2 separate regions of the Homo sapiens genome follow, and region 1 is reported to be linked to region 2. Evidence: microRNA targets listed by miRTarBase, many of them from high-throughput screens and not tested one by one. Region 2 holds a microRNA gene; the other region holds the end of a gene's coding sequence.
Evidence for each region. The annotated mature microRNA hsa-miR-4766-3p reads AUAGCAAUUGCUCUUUUGGAA and lies in region 2 at 2,278-2,298, opposite strand. An mRNA with a match to its seed (bases 2 to 7 or 8) in the 3' UTR can be bound and repressed. Matches are read on the target gene's strand: a 7mer-m8 pairs with bases 2 to 8, a 7mer-A1 pairs with bases 2 to 7 and ends in A, and an 8mer does both.

Region 1 (3,415 bases), not on the chromosome of region 2:
CTCAAAGTGCTGGGATTACAGGCGTGAACCACCGCGCCTGGCCCACAAGTAACTATTGTTGCTTTTTCTAATTTTCTAGGATTTTATTTTTTTAAATTTCTTTTTAGTAGAGATGGGGGGTCGGGTCTTGCTATTTTGCCCAGGCTGGAGTAGTGGCACGATCTTGGCTCACTGCAACTCTGCCTCCTGGGTTCAAACAATACTCCTGCCTCAGCCTGCTAAGTAGCTGGGATTACAGGCATAAGCCATCACACCCAGCCTTGAGGATTTTCTTATACTGTGTTTGAATCCACATGACTGATAATATGCTTAATGTTTGAGAAATTATAACCTTGCAATTGAGGTTAATGATCTACTAACTACCTTTGTGTTGATCAGATTGTGTACAATCTGGAAAAGACAACGACTAATCCAAAGAAATGAAACTACAGAATTTCAGGCATTGTAATTATACCTGTAAGAAGTTAACCTAGCAGAGAAAACGTTTAACTATCCCTCCCATCACCATCACCATTCATTCTATTTGACAAACAGGAGGCATCCAAATATTTGCTAGGGGAAAGTCATCCCTGATCATCCATAAATCACACTGTAACAATCTCTTCTCAACAAAGCCTGCAGTAACTAAACCTCAGAAGTTCACTGTTATAAACTTTTTCTTTCAACTTTACAGGGGCTGTTTAGAAATATATGGCCAAATCTGTAACCCGGAAACAGCAAAAAACTTCTTAGCAAAGGATCACTAAGTACCCTTTGGATGTACTCTTCCAACCAGACAAGAGTGCCAGAAACTTGGCAAGCAATTCATCCTGTGGAAGTTGCAAATACTGGCTGACCTGCTTAAAAAGATTCTAGAGTTGGCCGGAGGCAGAACATGTCAACTCTTTGCTGGATTCTATTTCATCTGCTGTTGATACTGATCTCAATGCACCAAGGAAAGGAAAGATGAGCCTCCTGTCTTCCAGCAACAACCCTCACATATGCACTGAGTGAAGGATGAATGTATGGACACATCTGGGAGTATTTTAAAGAATGTATCTTGCCTTGTGTTGACCCAAACCAAAAACATTTTTGAGGGGCACATGTGGGGTCAAAAAGATAGCCAATTTCCATTACATGGGTTTACAATTTCCATTCTTTTGTGCCACGAGTGTTAGAATTTAAATGAATACTTTTACAAAGTCTACTTTTTGTTCAAGGATATGCTGACCCATATAGTTTACTCTTAAAATTGTGTCAAGGTATTTCTCACTATACTCTAAAACAACTAGACTTGAAAAGAAACCATTTGAGATTTGAATCTAATGGTTAACGCTATTCAGATTTTCCCAAAGATCTTACCTCATGAAAGTAGTTCTGGGTCAGAATGATCTACTCAGTTAAAAAACAACAACAACAAAAAACTAAGCGATTGGGAAAAAACAGGAATTTTATCTGGTTATTGCATCTGGTGATAGAGGCCTTCAAAGCCTATTATTTCTAACCTAAGTAAAGGCCCCAGTGAAAAACATACTGGGGAAATAAAACCTCTGAGAAAAGGTTCAAGCACCTTTTCCAAATTTAAATCTTGCCTTAAATTCTCTCTACCACACTGCCTTTGACACTCTTGGAAGTCCATGTAGTTCTCTACAGATAGACTTCAAAGAAACGTTACCTTATCAAAGACTAATCTGTGCCACCTCTGATTCAGTGTTTTATGTCTTTCACTTTCCCTGGGAAGGAGTAAAGTTCTTTTCTACAGCTCTGGGACTATTACATTTAATTCTGCTCTTGATAGTCAAAGACCATGGACAACAACTGTCATCTGAAGGACTCTTCTAGAAGCCAGAGACTGGTGTTTGATGGATGTTTTATACTAAATAAAACCCATCAGCATGGGGTTATGTAGAAAAGCAATTTATTCCATTTTAAGCACTTACACAGTTAGTCATGGAGAGTAACAGGCCTGCTGGTGAAACAGGTCACCCAAAATGGAGATGGCATCAAACTAGTGGTCAAGGACTAACTCCTAAAAAAAAAAAGCAACTCTTATCAAGGATTAATTTAATTTTTAAAACAAATACAAGTTATTGATTCACTCTTCTCAACTTGACAGTCTACCTGTGGTATAACTGTCAGGTAAAAACATACATCTTTACAACTTGGTGGTCCCAAGTTAAAAAAAAAAAAAAAAAAACCAACAACAAAAAAAAAAACACCATTTCACAGACAGGAAATAAACAACATGAAAACAGCTCAAGAAATACACTAACGAGCAAAAATATATGAATATATGGGGAAAGAGGAACGTGTTGTTTTGACTTAACTGAAGAAACCAAGAGGAAACTGGTCTACGTATGAAAATGTGCATCCTGGAAAGTCAGGTGTCAAGATTTTCGAGTAGGAATCTATATGACTTGAATCTCCCCCTATTTCCTGAATAAAAGTGACATCTTTCAGTATTTATACTTCATGGCTCAGACACCTACCTCATTTGGCTCTATTCCTTACTCACTCTAGCCTTTACTTAAATGAGTCTGAAAAACTTGGGGATATAGCATAAGAAGAAAAATAATCACACATAATATTCCCCTTTCTGTAGCTACTTTAGACCTGGGTTACTAGAAAATTCCTGAAGAAAATTTCAACGTTAAGTCTGTGGCTTTGTTGAATCAAGCCCCCCTATTAATATTTAGAAAACACCCACGGTTTGGGCTAATAGCATTATCGGTGGTACCTATTATATAGAGGGATAGCTGAATAAAGTCTGTCTCAAAACCAGTGTTAAATCACTCTCAGGGTTGAGAAGAAAAAAGGGGAGTCTAAAATCACAACAAGTAAAGACATATCTAGGACCCTTGTCCTTCTGGATCCACGCTTCCTTCAGGGTCTTCATCATTATAAATGTTCTCTGCCTGCCCAAAAACAAGAAAAAGAATTTAAACATGAAGACTTCTTCTAAAACTCAAGGTTTCAACAACAGATTAGGCCAGGAAGCCAGAGAGTAAATACTTTATAGCTTTTGGGCCACACAATCTGTGTTACAACTATTCAACTCTTGGATGAAAGTATCCGGAGACAACCTATAATGGGTAATGAAATATTAATTAGCATGATCATGTTCCAATAAAAATAAGCAGCTGATCCCCAGACGCCTGATTAGGACATTCCCACAAAACTGCAGTGTGGATACTATTTGTCTTGATAGCCAACATTCTTGAGTTCTTTAACCAGGCATTATTATTTTTCTTTCCTTTTGAGATGGAGCCTTGCTCTGTCTCCCAGGCTGGAGTGCAGTGGCACCATCTCGGCTCACTGCAACCTATGCCTCCCAGGTTCAAGCAATTCTCCTGCCTCAGCCTCCAGAGTAGCTAGGATTACAGGCACATGCCACTACGCCTGGCTAATTTTTGTATTTTTAATAGAGATGGGGTTT
Region 2 (3,415 bases):
TCAGGTGGCTTATGATCATGGTGGAAGGTGAAAGGGGAACAGGTATGTCACATGGTAAGAGAGGGAGTAAGAGAGAGAGGCGTGGGTACCAGGCTCTTTTAAATAACCAGCTCTCCCATGAACTAACAGTGAGAACTCACTCATCACCAAGGGGATGGCACCAAGCCATTTATGAGGGATCTGCCCCCATGACCCAAACACCTCCCACTAGGCCTCACCTCCAACACTGGGGGTCACATTTCAACATGAGATTTGGAGGGGTCAAACATCCAAACTGAGATTTGGAGGGGTCAAACATCCAAACTGTATCAGTCACATAAACGATTTTTAGCCTAAGTTCTTGGGGATTTGGGGGTTCCTCTTTTTTGTGAACAATTCTGAACTGACACCTGGATTTCTTTCTTTTTCTCTTTTTCTTTCTCTCTCTCTCTCTCTCTCTTTCTTTTTAACTTATTTATTTTTAGAGATGAGGTCTCACTACATTGCCCAGGCTGGTCTCAAACTCCTGGCCTCAAGTGTTTTGCCTGCCTCAGCCTCTCAAAGTGCTATGATTACAGGCGTGAGCCACCACGCCCAGCCTGGCACCTGGATTTCTTAAGAATGCATCATCATCTACATTTCAGGCTACTTACTAAAAAAAAAAGATGGTTTATTCATTCTGGGCTATATCTCTCCTGTAAATATCTAAAGTATACTTTTTAATTTGGTCAACACAATCCACATATGAAGTTGGGCTTACAGATAGAGTAAGAATGAAACACTGGGTAAATCTGGTCAAGACTTGGTCCCCCCAGCGTGTGCAATCTTATGGGAATAATAGATAAGAACATACATAAATACAGAAGCATATTTTCATGCCTTTTAAGCATAAAACAATGATGTTTGGGTTGGTATACCAACCAAATCACCAAATGTGACTGACTGTTTCTAAAATGTTGATTCATCCTAGCAGGGTGAAAACTAGTGGTGGGGGTAAAAAAGACAATGCTAGTCCAAAATCAGTTTCCAGAGGGGTCCCGACGTGGCTGAGTCACAGCAGCACCACTGAAATCAATGTATAGCCTCTCCTGATTTAGAACACTGCATTATAGAACAGAAAGATTATTTTAAAGCCAGACACGGTGGCTCACACCTGCAATCCCAGCACTTTAGGAGGTGGGAGAATGGCTTGAGCTCAGGAGATTGAGGCTGCAGTGAGCTGTGATCATCCCACAGCACTCCAGCCTGGGAAACACAGTGAGACTTAGTCTCAAAACAAATAAAAATTTAAAAAAATTTTTAAAAACCACCTAAGATGTTTTCTGTGGTTTGAGCTAATAAAATTCTAAAGATTAAAAGCCACTTACAATGGCTTTCATATTTAAAAATGTTATTCACCTCATCAGAGTTAATGTAAGTCTTTTCCCTGACATAACAATCAAGCTAACTCATACATACACAGACAGATAGGCAAGTTACACAAATGGCCTCATGGATGACACTCTCGAGTGTTTAGGGATAAAATATAGGTTTACGTCCCAAGTATAGTATATATTACATAAGTAACTTCAAATCTCTATGTCTCAATTTCCTCATTTGTAATTTTGAGACCGGTATTTGTCAAGGTTGCTATGAGAAGTTAGAATCAAATTATGGAAAGTAGCTGGGCATGGTGGCTCACACCTGCAATCCCAGCACTTTGGGAGGCTGAGGTGGGTGGATCACTTGAGGTCAGGAGTTCGAGACCAGCCTGGCCAACACGGTGAGACCTCATCTCTACTAAAAATACAAAAATGAGCCAGGAGTGGTGGCACACACCTGTAGTCCCAGGTACTCTGGAGGATGTGGCAGGAGAATCACTTGAACCTGGGAGGCAGAGGTTGCAGTAAGCCGAGATCGTGCCACCGCACTCCAGCCTGGGTGACAGAGCGAGACTCTGTATAAAAAAAAAATACCCTCTCTATTAAAAATACAAAAAGATTAGCCGGGTGTGGTGGCAGACACCTGTAGTCCCAGCTACTCGGAAGGCTGAGGCAGGAGAATGGCGTGAACCCAGGAGGCGGAGCTTGCAGTGAGCCGAGATCACGCCACTGCACTCCAGCCTGGGCGACAGAGCGAGACTGAGTTTCAAAAACAAAAACAAAAAATTATGGTTGGCACCTAGCATCATACCAGGCACACAGGTGGCACTCAACAATTGTTGGTTTCTACATGTCCTTTATAGCTATAGTATCTGTTAGTAGTAGAAACCACTGTTAATTTTAGGGCCCTAAAAGGAGTAATGTCTTCTCAAGTTCCTTCCAAAAGAGCAATTGCTATTTAGTAAAAAATAAACACCAACTGCTCTTTCAGAAGGAGCTTCAGAAAGGTAGAAGGGTCAACAGTATAGAATACTTACAAAGAACTGGAATCAATTAAGAATGCAAAAACAGTCAGTAGATGTATAGAGCACTCTTGACATAAGTAACTCCATCTTAGAAAAAGACTCCTATCTTTCATTTCAAAAAGCACTTTGACAACAGGGACCAGATGTTTTTCCAGATAAAGACACAACCAAGCATGCTCTTCCACTATCAGTCCTTACCAGAAGACTCTGTGACCATAAAAAGAACAGGACTTAAAAAACTCAAAATGGTCTTAACAGACACTGTCTTGCTGTCACTTGTTATAAAAGCCTGATATCTGTGTCCAAAGGCTCTGCCCACATCAAGGATTCTTTCTTACAAGACCAACACACTGCCATGATGAAACCAGGATACTTGTCTATATCACTCTCCCCGGACTGGTTAGGTAACCCTTTTTCCTCACCCTTTTCTCTTGATGTTCAATGTTACTTTGTTGCAGAATGTTTAATCTACATCATTTATGTATTAATTAGGTATACTATTATATATGATTTACAATATTGACTGACTACCTAGTGAATGAGAAGTACTAATAAAAATTGCCTCCTTGAGAACTCCATGTAACTTGTCTTTTATAACTGAAATAACACAATAAAAGTCTGACATTGTGAAAAGACACAAATGTGTGTGTACCTGGTTATCCATGACCTTAAACCATTCACAATAGTAGATTAAGCTGTTAGGAAGTCAGAGTTGACCTTTGGAAGAACAGTTCCAGTGGTCAAAGTAGGATGAGGAAAGGCAGTACGTGCAGAATATATATATATATATATATATATATATATATATATTGTTGTTGTTGTTGTTGTTTTGTTTTGTTTTGGTTTTTTTTGTTTTTGAGACGGAGTCTTGCTCTGTCGTCCAGGCTGGAGTGCAGTGGCGCAATCTTGGCTCACTGCAAGCTCCACCTCCCGGGTTCATGCCGTTCTCCTGCCTCAGCCTCCCGAGTAGCTGGGACTACAGGCGCCTGCCTCCATGCCCGGCTAATATTTTGTATTTTTAGTAGAGATGGGGTTTCACCGTGTTAGTCA

Region 1: miRTarBase lists RBBP4 as a target of hsa-miR-4766-3p. Seed matches in the 3' UTR shown: 7mer-A1 at 729-735.

Annotation. Positions count from the first base shown.
Region 1 is chr1:32,679,119-32,682,533 of GRCh38, reverse strand. RBBP4 (RB binding protein 4, chromatin remodeling factor) reads right to left here. Exons shown (of 12, transcript NM_005610.3): 12 at 1-2,894. The coding sequence ends at 2,829. It overlaps SYNC (syncoilin, intermediate filament protein), which reads left to right. Exons shown (of 5, transcript NM_030786.3): 5 at 674-2,628. The coding sequence ends at 684. Among named protein-coding and RNA genes, the nearest start is that of SYNC, 22 kb to the left of the region's middle.
Region 2 is chr22:40,811,616-40,815,030 of GRCh38, forward strand. MIR4766 (microRNA 4766) reads right to left here and starts at 2,343; the gene lies at 2,268-2,343. The region is part of intron 1 of SLC25A17 (solute carrier family 25 member 17); the gene reads right to left.